2 separate regions of the Homo sapiens genome follow, and region 1 is linked to region 2. A link means that fine-mapping ties the variant in region 2 to the expression of a gene that starts in the linked region. Tissue or cell type: minor salivary gland. Region 2 holds a variant in brackets; the other region holds the start of a gene. All regions are shown on one strand. Distances are between the middles of the regions.

Region 1 (2,763 bases), 960 kb before region 2:
CTCTATGTCTTTACAAGTGCTGTCTTTTTAATTATTACTATACGTCACTGTGACATCAATGGGGCTTTCACAGAAAACAACCACCTGGAACGCAACGCCCGCGAATCAAAACTGTTGGTCCTGTTCCTGTTCCCCTCTAGTCCAATCTCTGCCTTGGTACAACTGTTCCCATGCTGTTTGGCCCACAGCTGCTGCTGAAGCCCGACCAGCCTGCCCATGCCAGCCCCTGCCAAGGACTCCCAGGCCCCCTTGCACCCAGCGACTGGAAAGGTAATGCCTAACGGCCCAACATCTTTAGAGCTGTAATCTGTCACCTCGCAGAGGAGTGCTGATGGTGCCCAGACAGACTGCTCAGTTATGCCTCTGGAGTGGGAGGTGCAGGAGGTCACCATGGGCTTTGTGCGGAACCAGGAGAAGCAGCCCTGGCTGTGAGATCAGGCCTGGCGAGGACAGCTCCTGCAGTGCCAGCTCTGCACCACCTCCAAGTGCTGCTGCCTCTGGCATGGGAGGTGTTATCATGGACACCATAAATGTGGGACCTTCAGGACTGGTGACAATTTTGATGGGCTGCACTAAAAAATCTGTAAAGGTGGTTAAGATTTAGCATGACTGACTGCCTAAATGCTTCCTTTCATGTGTCTATAAAAGTGATATTATCAAAGCGGAGCTCTGGGACGATTAATCTGGTTGCAGTTCTCAAGGAGTCCAGGCAATATTACTGCCAGGCCTGGAGGTGTGACCGGGGGGTGTGGGTCAGTGTGGCCATGGCCCTGGCAGGGGCAGCGGGGAAGGAGGGTGAGCTAAAGACGCTGGGTTTCATTTTGAATATGTTGAGTTGGAGGAAGAGGTCAGCCTGGAACTTAGGAGCGATGGAAGAGCCAGCATTCTTGCCTTAGCTTGGGGGTGAGGTTCCCCTTGCTCACTGCAGTTTCTCAAGGCCCGAGGCTTTGCGCTGTGGAAAGAAGTCTGAAATTTCAGGGACAGGGACAAGTGTTGCATGGGAACCTCCATGGGAAAGACAAGGTGGTAAGGAGAGGTCTTTGGGGCTGCCGCCTCCCGACCCCCACTGAAGACAGAAAGGAAAAGGGGCCAGAGGGAGATTTGTCTGGGGAGTAACGGGCAAACTGAGAATGCCATCCGCTGCAAGCTACAGCCACCCTGGGCTCTTCACACGTAGACAGAGCCGCCCCCTCCCATCAAGCGTTGCGGGCCAGCACTGCAGGACCCTGGCCTACAAAGGCAATGGGCCTGTGGCTGGCGTCACCCTCCCTCTGGGCAGCCGTGCAGGCACCCACAGGCCCTTGTGACTTTGGTCTTTTGAGAACTATGACAGTTCTGCCTGTAAGGTATGTTTTTTCTCTGTTTCTTTCTCAGCCACCATCACCAAGCTACTTACCACTTAGAAAGGGGAGTAAAAGTCAGGCCTGGAAGCAAACCCCGAGGAAGGCTGGGCTCAGCCTGTTGTGGGCATGGGAGGGCCTCTCTGCCTGAAAGCCGTGAGAGGTGAAGTCCAAGGATGGTCACTGAGGCCTCAAAGGTCTCCTCACTGTGCCACTGAGTCAGATCTTGAGTTCATCCAGGCTTGTGGGGACCCAGAGGACAGAAGATCATGGCTGTTGCCACCCATCTAGAAAATTGAGCCTCTTTCCACGTGTCCTTGGCCTGTGAGTACAAGCTGTCTGATCTGTTGATTGGAGGCTTGAGACAGAACACAGACACAATCCCATCAGGAATTTTCCAGAAGCCTCTGAGATGCCCCCTCCACCCACAATGCCCGAAATAGACAGCTCCCTCAGCGAGCAGACCTCTGGGGTCACAGACCATTTATAAAGGAGCGTGGTGCTCACTAATGCGGCTTTGGAGCTACAGCAAAGCGTAGCAAAAGCCTTGGGAAAAGTTCAGAGTGAGATTAGATCGAGGCTTTCTTGTCTGGGCAAGGCGAGGAGGCTGCCGTCACCTGGCTGGCGGGGAGACCTTAACCCCATGAACTTCAGAGTCTGGCCCCTTGGCCCAGTGCACCCTGGGAAATCCCCTGACTGCTGCACTGGGGAGTGACTGTGGTGAGGGACGTGTCCTCCCCCAGGGCCTCTGCCCTCCATTTGCCTCACAACCCAGGGCCCAGCACAGTCGGGATCACCAAGGTTAGAGCTGTTTCCTCCTCTCAGAACCACAGAGGGGGCCCTGAAAGTGCAAGATTGGAATGCCACTCCAAATGCCACGTGGCTTCCCTGGGACCCACTAACTGGGCAGCAGGGACCTCAGTGCTCTGGGAGGAGTTGGTGGTCCTGACGCTATGCACCCCTTTGGGCAGAATGACCCCCAGGGGACAGAGGCAGCGAGGGGCATCACTCAGATTACCTGGTGGACCCTCACACACCACTCTCATTAAATAGGTAAGAGAATAAAAGCTCAGAAAGGTTCGGTGAGCTGTCAAGACATATGGGGCAAGCCCGTGTTCTAGCCCAGATCTGTGTGAGGTTGAAGCCTTTGAAGGAAGGGCATGGCCCATGAATAAAGGATGTAGCCAAAGGGATCCAGAAGAGGTAGGCTTCAGAATTCCACCCACTCATGGACAGCCAGGTCCCAGTGAGGGCCAAGAAAGACCAGCTCCCTACACCATGAGCCTGGCTGAGGAGCCAGCCTGGAACCCTGGGAAGGAAGGGATCTGTGCTCCATTTGGGCACGCAGAATCATGCCTGATCCCAGACAGACTTTATGTCATCAGCTTTTCAGCTTTACTCTCCAGGATGGTGGATTTGATAG
Region 2 (2,763 bases):
GGTAGCTGATTTCAGTGGTGACAGAACAGGCTCATTTTGCTCAAGGGTGAGATGGGACAGAGGTAACAGGAGCATTCAGCAGCCTCCTCCCACTCACCCCTCACTGCCATGCCCCGGCCACCCTCCCTTCTGGTTGTGGCCACTGCCTACCCTCCCTCCCACTCAGGTGTAAGGCAGCACCCAGATCCTCCAGGGGCTTTTCACAGACATTGTTGATATTTTTGCTGTTGTAAATTTGTAAAACCCATGCTTTCCCGTATGAAACCGGTGAACCAGATATGCTAACAAGGAACACCTCGCTAGCCACCCTTAACTCCATGTTGTCTGCTGCCTCAAATGCAGGACGTCTGATTTCAAACTCCCATTTCCTCTCAGATGTTCTCTTCCCATGTCACTGATGACACCGTTGGCATCATTGTCCTCCCAAATATCTGTGACTCCTCTCACCACCATTGATCTATATTGATGAGTTGTGTGGAGTTGAAAACCCAGCTTCAGGGTTCCCTGAATTTTCAGTTACTGTGCTTTTCTGACTTCCTTGCTTCCACTTCCAAGGCTGTGCCTTAGTGACAGAGCTATCTGCTTTACTCTGATTCCGATTCCTCTAAGTGCCCAGGTTTCTGCTTTATGGAGACTGCACCACTTGGAATTTCTTTAGTACAGACTCCTTGTCATGACACTCGAAGCCCATTAGGTTTCTGACCTCAGGTTTCCTCTCTCATCTCCTAGAAATCAGACCTTTAGGTCGGTCCATTTTACTTGCCATCCCTGGAATAGAAGGGCCTCAGTGTCCCATCCCTCCTTCCTGTACTCCTCCATCCCGTTGAATAGTCAACACCTTACATTAGTTTTGTTTAAAGGTTATGAACACTGTCCTGCACATTATTTCATTTAACTTTCCCCCTTTTTTTCTGTCTCATCTCACCCTGTGTAAATTTAAACTGTTTCTCGAGGCTTAACTCAGACAGACCTCTGATATAGCACCTAGTGTAGTCATAGCCTATTTTTCATAGTGGAATAAAACCTATCAATAAACAATGGATTTCACCACTGATTTAAGATACATGATCTTTTGTGGACCTCTGCTACAAAATAATTCCCATGGATGGCCTGAATACATTTTATTTTCTCTATCTAAAATTGTAGCCACAGTTACATACATACATTTATTTATTTATTTATTTATTTATTTATTTATTTTTTTAACTGGGGAGAAGAATTATGGTACAATGGCAGAGACTTGGGCTCTAATACTGTGTCTGCCCCTGGGAAGCTGTGTGGCCATTGATCAGTAATTTCCCTTTTCTGGGCTTGACTCTTCTCTCCTGTAAAATGAGGTGATTAGATTCTTATTATTTAAGGGTCTTTTAAGCTCTAATGTTATATTTGATTGTAAACTCTTTTGGGACAGAGGCAGCCTCGTGTACTTTTGTATTTATAAGCTGTTCAATGAATGTCTCAAATTGAATTAGCTTCATGATGAAATCCTGGTCCCAAATTTGTGTTACAACTTCACAGTCATATATGGTTAATCTCGATAAAATTATTTAGCATTGGTGAGCTATTCATCTAAGTAATCTCTTCAGTTATCTTTGCCACCTATGTCTACA[T/C]AGGCCTGGCCAGAGCCCCCAAGTGCCTGGGCCCCACTCAGTGTGAACAAAAGCCTTTGCATTCTTGGTGCCATGGCATGTAATTAAGTGGAAAATAATTCCAGCATGACACAGAAGTGAGACTTCATACACAAAGCAAGTAATTTAGGTCCAGATTATTCAGTCATCCCATTCAGTATTGTATCAACTACAGGCAAAGCTCTATGGTAGATGCCATTGGGCTTAAAAATACAAATGTTGCATGATCCTCTGTAAGCAGTTTATCTCCAACTTAGGAAAGTCAGATATGGATGGCACTGGAATAGATGCATAATAATACAAGACAGTTAGCTGGCACAACAAGGTTTCAGGGGAAGGAGATAGTGTTTTACAGAAAAGGGGTCAGAAAGAGTTTCATGCATGATAGGAGGTTTAATCCAGACCTGGTAGAGAATGGATAGGATTTTACAGTCAGAACAAGAGCCTGAGTGATGCTGCCTGAGGGCATAGTTCAAGTCTCAAAGAGGGAGCAGATCATAAACCAGACACTGTGGCTCTTAAGTCACGTGGCGAGCAAGTGGAAGGCAGAAGGCCCTGGACACTGGTAAGGATGGGACGAGCACACACTCACTGAACTCAGAAAAAGCAGAAGGCAGTGGGATGCCGAGGTGCAGAGCAAGGCCAAAGCCTGGTTCTACCACTCCAGGTTACATGAACAAGGACAAGGCAGGCAACCCTCCGGACCACAGTTTCCTCATCTGTCAAATAAATACAGTGATAATAGCACCTCATGAGATGTGAGAGATTCAACAGAGCCAGTTCAGGGCAAGAGATCACCAGTGAATGGATGAGCAAGCATGGGTTAGCTGTAGATGTAGGAGATCAGGACTGAGACCAAGCCATCCGATCAAGGGAAGGGAAGGGGTGGATGTGCTGGGATGCCTGCTCTAAGAAGGAAAAAGTGGGGAGCCCAGAGCACTGTGTGTCTTGGATTGGGGTCCACAGAATGAGTGTGCAGAAATTGGTTAAGTTAGGCACTGCCCCTTTTAGAAACGTTCCCCTTTTTCTTGATTTTGAGGTGACAAGCCTCCCGGGCTGGCTCCTTGGGTGGTGCTCAGAAAGCAGGTGGTATTAGCAAGGCAAGCTTAGAGATCAGTGCTCTTCGAAGGCCAGG

Evidence for each region. PIP is the estimated chance that this variant, and not a neighbour inherited with it, causes the effect.
Region 1: it holds the start of B3GAT1-DT, and the variant in region 2 is fine-mapped to the expression of B3GAT1-DT in minor salivary gland (GTEx, PIP 0.94).

Annotation. Positions count from the first base shown.
Region 1 is chr11:134,435,418-134,438,180 of GRCh38, reverse strand. It overlaps B3GAT1-DT (B3GAT1 divergent transcript), which reads right to left and starts at 1,699. Exons shown (of 6, transcript NR_033852.1): 1 at 1,397-1,699.
Region 2 is chr11:133,479,882-133,482,644 of GRCh38, reverse strand. The region is part of intron 1 of OPCML (opioid binding protein/cell adhesion molecule like); the gene reads left to right. Among named protein-coding and RNA genes, the nearest start is that of OPCML, 51 kb to the left of the region's middle. The variant T/C (reference allele first, on the strand shown) is at 1,611.